2 linked regions of the Homo sapiens genome follow. The protein of the gene in region 1 interacts with the protein of each later gene in a pairwise test. Each region holds a gene or a part of one and is shown in the gene's direction. Other genes may lie near its edges.

Evidence for each region. Proteins that work in one complex are often made in the same cells at the same time.
Region 2: the proteins of CMTM6 (region 1) and CD160 interact in binary tests that used the Homo sapiens proteins (3 or more experiments, as listed by UniProt).

The regions. Positions count from the first base shown.
Region 1 is NC_000003.12:32,492,432-32,500,444, reverse strand, and holds part of CMTM6 (CKLF-like MARVEL transmembrane domain-containing protein 6), read left to right. Parts: intron 1-8,013. UniProt on the Homo sapiens protein: Master regulator of recycling and plasma membrane expression of PD-L1/CD274, an immune inhibitory ligand critical for immune tolerance to self and antitumor immunity.
Region 2 is NC_000001.11:145,714,740-145,723,109, forward strand, and holds the start of CD160 (CD160 antigen precursor), read left to right. Parts: upstream 1-4,759; 5' UTR 4,760-4,820; intron 4,821-8,370.

The DNA.
Region 1 (8,013 bases):
TGATGGTTGTCTTTTTGTTCCTTTGTTTGTTTTGATAATGTCTTATCTCTTCACAGTAACAGTATATTACAGGAATTATCCAGCAAGTCCCAAGAAGGTTACATATGAAGTCGGTAAAAGTTGTCTTCCAGCCTGGGGCTATAGGCAAGGTCTTTGCCTTAACTCAAATTCTTCCTTTAGATAGATTGGTTGTTTTACTTTAAATGTTTAATTTTTTTAAAAAACTAAACAGAATTGCGAGCTCCAGTAAGGAAACAACTGTAATGGAGAAACCCGTAATCAGAAGAGGAGGTGTTTTAACAAGGGACCTGCAAACCCTGTGAAATTTTATTCAAAATATTGTACACTTATATGTTTGAGTATATTATTCTGGACCCATAAATCTTAACAGAATCTCAAAGATCCTACAAGAGAAAAGCCTGCTCTAAAACTTAAAAACCAGACATTGTGTATATACTTAGGAAATTCTTACATTAGAGTCTTCGGAGGTTGAATTGAATTACCTCTGAGGTTCTTTGCACTCTTAAGGTTTTTTTTTTTTTTTCAAACCTCTGAGGCTCCATGGGGTTTGCTATTACAGAACTGAATTGAATATTGAAGGGATAGAGAGTGGAGCCTGTACACAGAGGAGATTAGAGATAAAAGAACGTAACTTCTCTATCTCTTGAAGTTAACATAGCTGTGTCTGCCATTTAGATATGACCTAAGTTTTGTTAAAACCCTAAGCATCCCCCAACTACCATCCACCCTTCCAGAGCTTAAGAAGAAATACTCAGTTGAGAATTTAGTGTAAGGAGTTACTGGAGTCCTAACTTTATGCAGTTTTTCAGTTTATACTATCCTTAGATTTGTCCACATGTTCATGTTTTATTTTGTGAATGTTTTTGAGGGAGTTTTTGTTTTAAGGGGAGAATTGACGTTTGGTAACCTAATTGCTTGCTGATACGCTGGTGCAGTGACCTAAATATGTGGAATTTTCTGTGCAACAAGCTCCACATTGTATCCATGCTGTCAGTTGACTATCCTGATAGCTGCACAGTACTGGAATTCTAGTCGCTCATCTGGCAAGCAGTTTTAGAAATCGCCAGTGATTTTTCAATATATTACATTATAAATAATGTTACCCTATAAGTACCAAGAAACAGATTACTTGGAAGCATTTCTTATATTGATGCTCTTTTCATTATTTAAATATGAAAACTGATGTATAGTAAATTGAAATGTTCTATTTTTACCTTGAGGAAGATCCCGTAATGTCAGCAAATTATATCTGAACCTTTGTAAGAGTAAATATTTGCCTAAGGCAAGGGAGGCCTGGCCTGTTTCTTCAGACCAATGGATTTTTAAATTTGAACTTTACTTATAACTACAAAGTTTTTAATAGTAAAGTTCATTAATTTATAATTCATATCATTTTGTAGATGGAGCTTTATAATTAATGGCAAACATTTAAAAGTTCTTTTTATAAAATATAAGTAGTAGACTGTTAAATTAATGGAGAATTCGTATTTAATATAGTGACCGTTTTAAGGAACACTTGAAATTTCAGAAAAGGTAGTGAAACTGAGGCCGGGTGCGGTGGCTCATGCCTGTAATCCCAGCACTTTGGGAGGCCGAGGTGAGCGGATCACAAGGTCAGGAGATAGAGACCATCCTGGCCAACATGGTGAAACCCCGTCTCTACTAAAAATACAAAAATTAGCTGGGTATTGTGGCGTGCACCTGTAATCCCAGCTACTCAGGAGGCTGAGGCAGGAGGTGGAGATTGCAGTGAGCCAAGATCGTGCCACTGCACTCCAGCCTGGCAACAGAGCGAGACTCCATCTCAGAAAAAAAAAAAAAAAAAAGAAGGGGTAGTGAAACTGAAATGGAGAGATAGAGGCAGGATAGTAATTATCCAGTGTTTAAATCACCAGAACTGTAAGATCATGTTTTAGTCACTGAGACTTCCCAAATCTGTTGATGTTAGCAAATTGTTTTTAATGTATGATTTAATACATTAAAGGAAATATACAGAACTGTGGGTTTAACTTCAAAAAGCCAGTCTTACAGGGAAGACCTACACAAACATACATACTCGTAAAAGGAATTTAACAAACAGTATTTCATGGGGAGAGAGGAAGTACAGAGTGGGAGTCAGAGACTTGGGTTCTTGTCTGTGCCGAGCTAACTTGGGGCTTAACCTGTCAGTAGCTTAATTCCATCTTTGTAAACGTGGGAGTGGGAGACTATATCCGCTAAGGGCCCTCCTGACATTAAAAGCTTGATAATTCTCTTAATTATATTTGGGTAAAATTTTATGTCATTAGAAGGAGTTACATTGGGTATACAGTTGTTAAGTACTTAGCTTAATATTCAGTAAGCAATATTTAGTATGATGACTTCATGCTATTAAGAACAAAACTGTTTACCAAAAAATAATAATTGAGCCTTTTTACTTATGGGTTATGTTTACCATGAATTTCTTAGCTAATTCAGTGACATTTTTTCTCTCTTCCTATTTTTGACCACTTTGGCATTTAATGCTGGTGACCACTCATTTCTCGAAATTGTTCCTTCAGCTTTTACACTTTTTTTTTTTTTTTTTGAGACGAAGCCTCGCTCTGTCACCCAAGCTGGAGTGCAGTGGTGCAGTCTCGGCTCATTGCAACCTCTGCCTCCCAGGTTCAAGCAATTCTCCTGCCTCAGCCTCCTGAGTAGCTGGGACTACAGGCGTGCACCACCATGCCCGGCTAATTTTTGTATTTTTGATAGAGACGGGGTTTCATTATGTTGGCCAGGCTGGTCTCAAATTCCTGACCTCGTGATCCACCCGCCTTGGCCTCCCAAAGTGCTGGGATTACAGGCGTGAGCCACCGCGCCCGGCCAACTTTTACACTTTTTTCTTTTTAATACAAGAAAGTGTCTGCTTACCAAAAAAAAAAAAATCAACTAAAAATATTAAAATAAAACCACTTTCCCACCCCTCACACTACCAGGTGTCACGGTATGAGTAACAGTTTGGAGTATGTTTACTTGCTGCTTTTTAAGGAGTTTTTTCTTTCTTTTTTTTTTTTTTTTTTGAGACAGAGTCTCGCTGTTGCCCAGGCTGGAGTGCAGTGGTGCGATCTCGGCTCACTGAAAGCTCTGCCTCCTGGGTTTACGCCATTCTCCTGCCTCAGCCTCCCGAGTAGCTGGGACTACAGGCGCCCGCCACCACGCCCGGCTAATTTTTTTTGTATTTTTAGTAGAGACGGGGTTTCACCATGTTAGCCAGGATGGTCTTGATCTCCTGACCTCGTGATCCGCCCACCTCGGCCTCCCAGAGTGCTGGGATTACAGGCGTGAGCCACCGCGCCCGGTGTAGGAGTTTTCTTTTTTTAAAAACACTTCCTGTGGCTTGCTGATAAGAAGTTAGTTGCTCTTTTCCCTCCTACACTCGGAACTGTAGAATTCCTTTAGGCCCCACCCAATCCTCTGTTCCTCCTGTTTTCTAACCTACTAAACCAGACAGGTGTTCCCTCCTGCCTTCATCTAAACATCCATATTCCCTTGCATGATCATCACACAACCACACCCAACTCCTAAACCATTTTTTTCTTCATCCCCATCCAGTTAGGTCAGTTGCCTTATTATCATTTTTGGATTTACTATGCAAATTCTTGCCCTTATGAATATGTTCTTTTTCATCCTCCACCTAGAATTAGAATGTCCTCTGTCTATCCAGGTTCTGTTTGTGTCTCTGCCTGGTTTGAGTCCTGCTTTTCCACTCATCCTTCTCCGGCTCCTTCGAACATTTTCTTGAGATTTTCTAACCTACATATAATGAATGCTCAGTTAATGTGGTATAAAATATATTGTTATTATTGTTTCTTGTACATTGAGCTTATTACTCCATCATTTGTATCTTCCTATACGTAGAACAGTGTTGGAGTGTTGCTAGTTCAAGTACACTTTGAGCTAGCAATTGCATAATGCTGTGGGAGCTTACAAAGGTTAGTAGCCTCAGAGATGGGTAGGCAGAGAATTTTTTTTCTTTTTTTTTTGGTAGAGATGGGGTTTCACCATGTTGCCCAGGCTGGTCTCAAACTCCTGAGTCCAAGCAATCCTCCCGCCTTGGCTTCCTAAAGTGCTGGGATTACAGATGTGAGCCATCGCATCTGGCCGACAGAATTTCATATTGACTATAGCTTGTAGTGCCAATTTGTTGGCCTTTAACTTGAGATGGGAGCTAGTAAATGTCCACACTTTTTTTTTTTTTTTTTTTGAGATAGTCTCGCTTTGTCACCCAGGCTGGAGTGTAGTAGCGCCATCTTGGCTCACTGGAACCTCTGCCTCCTGGGTTCAAGCAATTCTCATGCTTCAGCCACCCAAGTAGCTGGGATTACAGGCATGCGCCACCATGCCCAGCTAATTTTTCTATTTTTAGTAGAGATGGGGTTTTGCCATGTTGGCCAGGCTGGTCTTGAACCAGGTTGGCCAGAAGGCCTCAAGTGATCTGCCCGCCTTGGCCTCCCAGAGTGCTGGGATTACAGGTGTGAGCCACTGTGCCCTGCCAGATGTCCATACTTAATATTGTACTCCTTGATTCTCTTAAGATGTCCAGGCAGAACCTGCTTCCTGCTATTGCTCTGAGGCAATAGGTCAGTAAGGTCAGTAGGAATGCCACCTGTTAATACGTTTGGAATAGGACTTGTAATGACTTGAGACTGACTGCTTCTGGACAAGCTGGATCCTGTCTTTTTTTACTGAAAGTAGACAAGCAGCCTATGTCTGTCCTACAGATAACCTTTTATTGCCATATAGCCTTCACACATGAGTGTGCCTAATAGTCTAATTGTAAAATGAGTGGTTCAGCTATTCCCAGACCCTAATTAGAGTTTTAGGCTGGTATCTTCTCTCAGTTAATTGACTTTTATACAACCGAGGTATATTTTGTAAATTTCTCAGAGAGAAACTTTTAAAACTTGGACAAGATTTAACATAGAGGCAAGAAAAAGGCAAGTGAAATGTTAGATATTTAGTATTTTATTAGACTATAGTCATGTTAGAACTCATCCTGTAAGTATGATTATAGGAGACTAAGGAAGTATCTTTACACAGTGGCCCTCTGGGATTTATCTTGGTGTTGTCACTTTATATCCTGTGGTGTAATGATTGGGAATGCCTTACCTAACACCTGTCTGAAGGAAGTTGTTTGGGACATGCTGGGCTATTTCATGCTTCACTAACTTACAGGAAATCAGAGAATGTAACCATTCATGTTACAATTAGACTATTTTTTTTCTTTTATATAAATTCTTTGCAGTTGTGGGGATGTATACATTTTGTATAGCCAGTAGAAGGGAGAGGAAATCCCTTAAAGGTTTGGATACCAGTATAGATTTGAATTACTATTTTTTAACTTTTTATTTTGAAATTATTATAGATTCACAGGAATTGCAAAAAAAAAAAGTACAGGGAGGTCCCACATTTGTATGTGCATGTGTGTGTAATTCTATGTAATTTTACCATGTGGATAGCTTTCTATAATTACCACCACAATCAAGACACAGAACTGTGCCATCAGCAGAGGCTTCCCTGTGCTACCCCTTTGTAGCCACACCTTTCCCCTTTCTCTTGGCTGCCACTAATTTGTTAGCCATCATTATTATTTTTATTATTCTAAGAATGGGCTATGAATGGAATCATGCAATATGTAACCTTTTGAGATTGGATTTTTTTTTTCCTTTGAATAATTCTCTGGAGATTCATCTAGGACATTACATATATCAAGTTTGCTCCTTTTTATTGCTAATATTCCATGGTATGGATGTACCACAGTTTGTTTTAACCATTGGACATCTGGAATGTTTCTAGTTTGGGGCTACTATGAATAAAATTGTTATAAACATTCACGTACCGGTTTTTGTACAAATGTTAAGTTTTCATTTCTCTGAGATAGTTGCCCAAGAGTTCTATTTCTGGGTCATATGGTAGATATATGCTTAGTTTTTAAAGAAACCGCTGAACTGTTGTTTGTCCCTTTTTAATGAAAATGTTTTGTAGGATAAGATATTTACTATTACTATGAAATGTATCTGTTGATTTTGGTAGCAATCTTGTTGCCATTAACCTGTCTGGTTGCTTCTACTGGCCTGACTGGAGTGAGAAGGGAATTCCCTTTAGCCTCTGACTTAGGTCATCAGTCATTTTGATGGTTTCGGCCCTCAGCAGGAAATTCCCTCAGCTTCCACAAAACCCACACAAACTGCCCAAGCAAAATACTCTTCTTCACTCTCTTCCCTTCTATTTCTAGAGAAGAGTTAGCCCCAAACCTGAGCCCTGAATCCTATCTTTAGAGAGCCATTTTTCTACCTATGTCTTTAGACCCACCCATCTTACTGGTTTCTGCCTAAGTATTTAAACATGCTCAGTTCTCCCATGTTGAAATTCCCTTCTCTTTGACCTCATCCACTACTGCCCTATCTGGCCATTCTTTCCCAGCCACACTTATTGCCTATGCTGTCTCTCCTTCACTGCCTTACCCTCCCCTTACTTCCCAATATACAGTATTGTAATCGAGCTTCTCTCCCTGACTACCCTGGAACTTTTCTTGCTAATGTCACTGGCAACCTTCTTATAGCTCAGTCTAAGGTAGGTGTTTCAGTGTTGTTCTTACTTGACCTTTAAGTAGCATTTAGCACTCTTGATTACTTGTGTGTTTGTGCATGTGTGTGTAAATACTTTTTTCTTGTTTACTACCCCTTTGATTGCTGCTGCTAGTTGTCCTTTGCTGGTTTCTTCCCCTCTGCATATCCCGTAAATCTTCAGATTCCTCAGATTTCCACATAAGGCTATCTTTCCTCATTTGAGTCATCTCACCCTCCCACTCTGCCAGCTCCCACATCTTTATCTGCATCTTAGACCTCTCCTTTGAGCTCCAGACCTTATATTCATTTGCTTTCCAACTACATCTTCACCAAACTCTTCCACAGACCTCCTCAATCACAGCATATTTAAAACTGAATTTCTTCTCTCCCTAGCACCCTTGCCTTTTAAAAAGAAAAAAACCTGACTCTTTTTTCAGTGAGGACCAGTATGTTAGTACCACATATACAGCAGTTGGAAGTAGTTAAAACCCACTTGCGTGTAATTGAGTTGCCAATTTAACCAGAGTTAACATTCTCCACTCACCATACCAAGCATCCTGACCTCACACCAGTCACCCACAGCCTGCCATGGCCAGTAGGCATCTCATTAGCACTCTAGAACTCTTGCTTCTGTCATCAGTTGAGTTGTGTTGTTCCCATACTGGTTTATGCTAACTATACTTTTATGGCCATACAGTTAAATATTACAAAGCTGAAACTGAGTGTTAAAATGAATTGTTTCTTTAAAACTAAATTGAATGCTTTGGAAAGACTGAAAGATAACTTACTACAAGATTTATCTGCCATGGAATTAAGGAAGAGCAAGGCAACTGTAAAAGGCTGGTAAAATAGTCTGACTCTAGAAAGATTCTGAACTCTGTTTCTCAAGTGTTTAAGATCTCACTTCACTTCAGATAACATCAGTCTGGAAGTAGTAGTCCATAGATGATGAAAGTGATTAATGCAGAAAACATGTGGAATTCGTCAGTAGACCCATAAAGAAAATACTCACTTCAGCAGATTGTTAATAAATGTGCGTTTTTAAGTTAAAATGTTTAAGGTACACATGTGTTATCTTGTGTTCCATATTATTTGTATGCATCTTGTCTGATATGAGCTTTTGCATCTTGTCTGATAAGAGCTTCTGCTGCATCTCTCAGTGATTGCCACTCTTCTCTATTGCTGCTCCCTAGTCGCTATTATTTGCCCTGATTTCCTACATCAGCTTCCCAGTTGGATGTCCGCCCCAAGGTTTGCCTTACCTCTGGTCCCTTCTCCATATTGTAGCCAGTGAGAACTACTGAAAGCATACACCTGATCATTGTCAACCTTTACTTTAAAATCCAGACTCTTAATTAACGAGGACATTTAGATCTGGCCTCAGCTTACCTCTCTAGCCTCA
Region 2 (8,370 bases), on another chromosome or scaffold:
TCAAATGTGCTCCCTCACAGCCACTGGGGCTGCTCACCAACCATCACAGTAGGCCCTGAACTGGGCCAAGGTCAGAGTTACTCTCCCTCACCCACACTCCCCAAACTCACACATGCTAAGCAACAAGGGGAAATGTGACAGGAGAATGAGCTCTACTCTTTACATGCGGGTGTAGCCTCTGGCACCTTCGTGGCCTGGAAGTCTAACACAGTCCAGTGAAATGTAGAAATAGCTACAAAGCTAAAGTGACCTTTGGCTGCAGTGAACACACGAGACTTGGACTAAGCCGAGGCAGGTAGCAGGTCTGAGCCATGTATCTAACAAGGGAGACTGACAAACTGGACTCTGTTCAGAGAAGAGGAGAAAGGACAAACAAAATATTGGAACCGTGAAAGCACTAAAATAATTGTAAGAAATAATTGCAGGAGCTGGGGATATTTAGCCCAGAAAGGAGAAACTTTAGAATGATTAACTTTCTTCAGAGAGTTGATAGACTCCTGAGTAGAAAGGAAAACTAGGTAATGCTGGCCAGGCGCGGTGGCTCACGCCTGTAATCCCAGCACTTTGGGAGGCCGAGGCAGGTGGATCGCCTAAAGTCAGGAGTTTGAGACCAGCCTGACCAACATGGTGAAACCCCTTCTCTACTAAAAAATACAAAAAATTAGCTGGGCGTGGGAGCGGTGGCTGCAATCCCAGCTGCTCAGGAGGCTGAGGCACAAGAATCACTTGAACCCAGGAGACAGAGGTTGCAGTGAGCCAAGATTGTGCCACTGCACTCCAGCCTGAGCAACAGAGTGGGACTCTGTCTCAAAAAAAAAAAAAAAAGAAAAAAGAAAAAGAAAAAGAACACTAGGTAATGATACTAGCCCACACCTGAGTACTTTTATATGCCAAGCACCATGCCAATTGTTTTACACACTTTCTCATTTACTCTAAACAGCAGTTCTGTGATATAACTGCAATTATTATCCCCATTCCACAGTTGAGGAAAACACAGAAAGGTTGAATGACTTATCCAAGGTCACGTAGTAAGTGGAGTCAGGACGTAAATCCAGGCAGTCTGCCTCATGTGCCTGAGACTTGCCTGCCATCCATAGACATTTCCCATGTGGGGCCCTCAGCAGACTTCATTGAAAGTTAAAGGCAGGCAGGACTGACAGCAGCACAAGGAAGAATTTTACTGGAAGTATTCCACAAGGGATATTGTGTGGATACTTTGGGTGGTAGTGAGCTGCAGAACAGTAGACAGATTCAAGCAGAGGATGCAAGAGGTATTACCCTGAACAGTTCGCAAGGAGCATTACAGCAACAATAGCACCAGGGAACTTGTTAGGAATACAACTTCTTGGACCACCCCCACCCCTGCCCTGAGTCCCTGAATTAGAAACTCTGCAGCTGGGCCCAGCCATCCGAATTGTTCAAAGATGCCCTGCTGGTGATGTTAATACACGCTCAAGTTTGGGAAACACTGGCATGCAAGTGTCTGCACACTTCCAGGGACTGGAAGACTGCTGCAGTCTCTTCTGCTTCCAAAACCCCATAATTCTACAGAAGTAAGATGGAAATACAATTCAATGTCCACTCAGTTTTTCTTTGTCTTAATGTCGAGCACTTACTATTAGTATCTTGAAAACAATCTATCAGTTGCTAAATTGTGTAACTGGACTCATACACCTTAGACATTGAAAGGCCCACAGGATACATATTTGGGAGGCTGTGGATGACCAGGAGGCAGCCTATATTTCAGCCACCTCATTGCTTCACTGACTTCCAAACCAGCCCCATATGTCCCTGCTCCTTGCTGGTTCATACTGTTCCTCTACCCCTGCCTTTTGAAATCCTGCCTTCTTTCAAAGCTCAATTTAAATGTCACATTGTCCACACAGAGTGCCTAACACTGTCTGCGCCCACAGGGCAGTCTCCTTTTCTTCCTCCCAACCTCCCCTGCTTCCTGGGTTCTCTCTCACTTCTGGGGTACTTAGAGCTCTTGGTGCATTCTGCTTCTGCTTCATCTCACGGGAATGCAGGCCTCTCTCAGCAGTGTGCTCGCCTTGACAGCAGGCCCCATTCAGTCATCGTCAACCCCGCAGGGCCTGGCACACAATAACCTTGTGAGAAGCGACCAAAAGCAACATTTGCAGAAAACTGTGCATGCAACCGTTTGCAGGATGGACAGACACTACATGGCTGGTGAAAAGGAAGCGCGCTGCGATTCACTTTTGAGCCCTGAGGTCTTTGCAGAACTTTGAGGTTTTTTGCAATAACCAGTATGAATACATGTGTGTCAGCTAGTACTTAAGTGGCCCCAACCTCACTCACCCACAACTCTGGTTGCCTTTAACTTCTCTTCATGTTGCTAATAATCACTGTTTTACAGCTCCTGGATGATAAGGAATGCTGAGTGCTCTCAGAGCCAACCTTTGAAAGGTTCTCATAGACCCAAGGAGGGAGAAGTCTCCATTTTAGAGAGCAGAGAGGTCATCTGTTTGAACACTATCATAGAGACAGCAAATAAGGATACTGGGAGAGCAGAGACCAGGCCCAGTTTAGCAGTTTATGCCAGTGGGACCCAGTATCCTGTGGGCTGTGGTGGACTGGTCCTGTGACCAGGATGATGGTGAGACACTCCTCTTCCCAACATGGGTTCCCAACCCCCAGGCTCCCAGAATGGACTCATTCTGCAGTGAAAGCTAACACTTTGATGGAGTGAAGAAGTATTTCTTTTCTTTTTTCTTTTTTTTTTTTTTTTAGAGACACAGTCTCACTCTGGCATCCAGGCTGGAGTGCAGTGGCGCAATCACGGTTCACTGCAAGCTCCGCCTCCCGGGGGGTCACACCATTCTCCTGCCTCAGCCTCCCCAGTAGCTGGGACTACAGGCACCCACCACCAGGCCCAACTAATTTTTGTATTTTTAGTAGAGACAGGTTTCACTGTGTTAGCCAGGATGGTCTCAATCTCCTGACCTCGTGATCCACCTGCCTCGGCCTCCCAAAGTGCTGGGATTACAGGTGTGAGCCACTGCGCCTGGCTTGGAGTGAAGAAATATTTCTAATATCTGTCTCATTTGACGATGGCTTCAGTGGAGCCATCTGGGAGTTCTCAAACCCCAGAGCACCCTACTGTTTTTAGGACCACAGAGTACTACAATAACAGGAATAAGAAGGAAAAGAGAGTCTCTAGACTAGTTATGAAAAATTTTCCCCCACCCTCCCTCCACCCTTGAATTCCTGGGTAGCCTGGCACTGGGTGGCAATCATGACAGGTGTTCCTCCAGAACCGTGGGGCTTCCTGGTGTGCTGTGCCCTTTGGCACAGGGCCTGGCCCAGCCTTGCAGGACTTAGAGCCCAATGCTTCTAATTCTCAGACTAATGTTCCTGCCATCTAAGGGCACAACCCTAGAATTTAGGAACAATTGTAATCTCCCAAGCCATCACTGACCAAGGAAGAACAGAACAGAATAGAAATGGATGGGAAGCTGGGAGTGGTGGTTCAGGCCTGTAATCCCAGCACTTTGGGAGGCCAAGGCCAGAGGATTGTTTGAGCCCAGGAGTTCAAGAGCAGGCGGGGCAGCATAGGGAGACCTCATCCATACAAATCATTTTTAAAATTATCAACCGAGCGTGGTGGCTCACGCCTGTAATCCCAGCACTTTGGGAGGCCAAGGCAGGCAGATCACTTGAGGTCAGGAGTTTGAGACCAGCCTGGCCAACATGATGAAACTGTCTCTACTAAAAATACAAGAATTAGTCCAGCATGGTGGCAGGCTCTCGTAATCCCAGCTACTCAGAAGGTTGAGGCAGGAGCATCACTTGAGCCCAGGAGGCAGAGGTTACAGTGAGCTGAGATCACGCCACTGTACTCCAGCCTGTGTGACACAGCGAAACTCCATCTCTAAATAAATAAATAAATAAATAAATAAATAAATAAATAAATAATAAATAAATAAAAAGTTATCCAGGTGTGGTGGCGTACACCTGTGGTCCTAGCTGCTTGAGGGGCTGAGGTGGGAAGATCACTCGACCCCAGGAGGTCAAGGTTGCAGTGAGCCATGATTGCCCCACTGCACTCCAGCCTTGGTGACAGAGCAAGACCCTGTCTCAAAAAAAAAAAAAAAAAAAGGAAAGAAAGAAAAAAGAAAAAGAAAAAAAATGGGTGGGTGGGAAGATAAGGTCAGTCATTCATCCTCCCCCCACCACATCAGGACCATTTTGGTGCCCCCACTCGTTGCCTCCCCTGCTCACCACCACCCTCACCCAAGCCTTCTTGACAGCTCCCTGACCTTCTTCCCTTTCAGCCTGGAGCAGCTGTGTTCTCTGTCCTACTTCTAACCAAAACCTACTCTCAGGAGAAGACTTGGTACCTTTCTTTATACTTGAGAGGACATTCTGTCCTTTTATCTTCTAGTTATTCTATCATCAGTCCTTTCCTTATTATGAATTAGCAAATACAAAATCTTTGTTCCCCAGGGTAAAGAAAAGAATTTTAAGAAGTGGTTTTTCTTAGCCCCCTCAGCACCCTAGTCTATTTCTAACACCAAAAAGACAAAACAAGGGAGAGGAAAGGAGAAGGAGATGGAGGACCAGTTGCAGGAGAGAAAGGAGAAAAAAATCCACAGTGGGGGTGGCGGAAGATCTATGACTTCTAACAACCCATTCTGTGGTTTTCAAAGAGCGAATATAATAACAGCTATGAAAGTGTGAGCAATGACGAAACTGGAGAGATAGGGTTTTAACAAGATGCAAGGACAATCTGAGGACTGAGAGCCATTTCAACGTGAGCCCCCAGTCTGAGAACAAGAAAGAAGAACTTCTGTCTCGAGGTAAAAAGGCCTGCTGGGGACCTGGGGTCCAGGTGAAGGGATGGGATGGTTGACAGAACTGCTCAGGTGAGGACAGGCTTCTCATGAGGTCCCTGAGAAACTTGCCTTTTGGAGGGAAATGTCCTCTGCCCTCTGGAGCCTGGGGAGAAGGTTATTTCTGCCCGCCAGACCAGCATGCTCGCTTTTCTTCCATGGGCATTCAGGAATCCTGGCCCCATTCTGACATTCCTCAAATGGAGGAATTCCTCAAATTACCAGAGGAAAGTTACCAAAGTTTAGATCTGCTGGAGCTCTTCAAGGATTGGCCTGAGACAAGCCGGGAGGTGCCACGGGGCTTGGAGCTGGCCCTGTGAGGCACCTCCGGGGGAAGTTCATGTCCTAGGTGGTTCACGTCATGGACCTCTTGGAGGTCCGTGAATAGATTTATTCATGGGATTTGTGAATTGGGGGGAAAAATACATCTTTATTTTCACTAATCTTTAATTGAAAGTCAGCACTTGCTTCAGTTATGAATGTAGACAATGAACCACAATAGAATTTGCCATCAATAGAAAACACAAATATTTTCAAATCTCATTACAGTTTTTATAGATTTCTCCAAATGTCCTTAACGCTCAGCACTACTACAGAATTACAACAGTTATTAGGCTGATGTCAAATCTAAAGAAGCATGTGTACTGCTCTACCACACATTCTTCTAATGTTTTGACAACTGTCTTGTCATAATTTGTTCCCTTTATTATCCCATGTATCTTATTAATTTTTAAATGTTGTTCTGAGAAGGGACTCCATATGCCTTCCCAGACCACCAAAGAGGTCCATGGCGCCTTTATGTCAGGCACCTGCTTTGGTGTGTTGAGCAGGAAGCCTGAGATCTCAGACAAGAGCTTCAAGGGCCCCCCAGCCCAAACCTCTGTCTACTAACAAGTCTGGTTCTACTTTAAGGCAGTTGGGGTTGTGGAGATTGAAAAAGAAGCCCCTTCACAGCTGCAAATGAGATCTTTCTGGGCATCTTTTTCAGTGTCGTGGGAGATCTGTATACAGAGGTATTTGTGGAGCTCAGAGCTGACCTTCCAGCTCCTCTGAGAGGTTAGATCCGGGCTCCGGTGGCAGAGGAAATGGAGACTCTTCCTTGCCCTCTTGTCCCCACCCTCCCCAGAAAACCTCTGGCAAAGCTTTATGTGTCATCTAACCGTCACCACATTCCTATGAGGTAGTTTTAAACACAAGAGGAATGTGAGGCTGAGTGAGGTCCAGCAATGTGCTGGTCACACAAAGCTTGGATTTGAACCCAGGAGTCCACAAGACTCCAGGACCGCCTCCGAAGGTGCGGGAGGGAAGAGTTTCCCGCCGTCTGTGAGCTGTCGCCTGAGAGAGGCACCGAGCCCTGGGGCCACCAGCGCAGCTCAGGAGCCCCGGGGACCATCAAAGATGAGGATGCCAACTCCACGGGCACCCTCCCCCCTGCCCGCGCTGGGGCTCACAACGTTTTAAGAGGGGAGACCCGCCCCTGGCGTGTAGTGGGCCCGGAAAATTCCCAGACTTCTCACGACCACCCGCTCTCCCCTCTGTTGAGGGCCAGGTGCCGCTCTAGTACATGCTGCGTCCCCAGGACCCACCAGGCCCAACTTTGCACCCCCTCATCTCCCCTCCTAGTTTAGACTTTCCCTGGCTAGCCCCCATGCTCGCTGGATGGCCCATGGCTGGAGTGACGCGGGCCAACGCGGGGCAGGTAGGGGGTCACTCGGCTTTGGCTGAAAGGCAGCGCCCTCTAGCGGCCAGAGTGCGAAATCAGCGCCGCCGGCTCCGCGCTGCCCCGCCTGCATCACAACAGGGTGCTCCCCTCCCGGGCACCAAGGTCACTTCCCAGAGCATCCTTGCCCAGTGACCTCGCTGCCCCCCAGCGCTGGTGAGGGGCCCACAACAGACTTACATGCTCTTCTTCAACTCGGCCCTAGGCACCGCGAAGTCTGGCCACTCCAGCGGAGTGACCAGCTGCATCAGCCCCTCCCGCCTGTCCTCTCTCTCCTTGGAAGCGGTCCCTACCCTGCGCCCCTCCCATCCCGCTGCACCAGTCCCTTAGGAAACACGCCTAGAGAAGGGACACGACCTTGTCAACATTCCACAGCTACCTAGTGCGGAGCCAGGACTGGAAGCCAGATCTCCTCAGCCCATTCCCCACCTTAATTCACCCACCGTATTCTTTAGTCACCAGCTCCCGAGAGCCCACAAACAACTATGAAGGCCTAACTTCATTGCCATCTTGCAGCCTTTCCACATCCCTCATCCAGAATTTCTCCTGTGCTGCCCCTTGACACTTTATGACCTTATTACTTAGTACAGTCGTTCTTGTGTTAACAGCTGTTCGTGAATGGATGAGCGGCTGTGAGGAGAGGGACAAAGGGGACTCCAAGAGAAAGACTCTCATAACTTGGGTTAGAGTCCTGCTCCCCAACTTAGGAGCTGTGATTTTAAGCAAGTCACAAGTCCCCTCCAAGCCTCTATATGCTTCGTACAAATAATAAATTTTAGAAAATAATAATGGCTTAGTGTTTTATAAGGACTAAACACAGTCTTGCAGGTAGATGTGCCTGGAACACTGTCCATTGATTCCAATATAAGAAAGCATAAAACTAATCATAGCTATCATTTATTGAGCCCTTACTCTCTGCCAGGCACTGTGCTAAGTAATTTACATAGGTGACCTCATTTGACCCTCACAACCCAAGGAAGAGAATATTTTGTCACCATTTTATAGGTCATTAAGAGATTAAGAAACTTGCCCAATATTACACAGATAGTTAAGTTTCAAAGCCAGATCTGAAACATCCTGGTCTGACTCTAGAGACCATTTAACCACTAAAACGTCCGCCTCTGCTGTGTTAGTGATCTCTCTGTGCCCCATGGTGTCTGACACATTATAGATGCTCCGTGTTTCTGAAATATGTCTATTTATTAAAGGCTGAGCATAGCGCCTGGCCCAGGAGCCTAAGAAACTTGACCGAGTCATGCAACTATTAAGTTTTTTTTGTTTTTATTTTTGTTTTTTCGAGACAGAATCTTGCTCTGTCGCCCAGGCTGGAGTGCAGTAGCGCGATCTCAGCTCACTGCAAGCTCCGCCTCTCGGGCTCACGCCATTCTCCTGCCTCAGCCTCCCGAGTAGCTGGGACTACAGGCGCCCGCCACCACGCCCGGCTAATTTTTTGTATTTTTTTTAGTAGAGATGGGGTTTCACCGTGTTAGCCAGGATGGTCTCGATCTCCTGACCTCGTGATCTGCCCACCTCGGCCTCCCAAAGTGCTGGGATTACAGGCGTGAGACACCGCGCCCGGCGCCACTATTAAGTTTTAGGACCAGGATTTGAACACAAACACTCTGGCTCTAGAGTCTACGCTTTTTAACCATAATTCTGGGCTGAATGAATAATTGCAATCCTTCTTTGTCTTCCTCTTTGAATAAAATGATTTGTCATTTTATTCATTTATCCTCTTTGTCACTTAATATTCCATGTTTCAAGAGTCACCAGGACATTCTGGTGTAGCATGAAGGT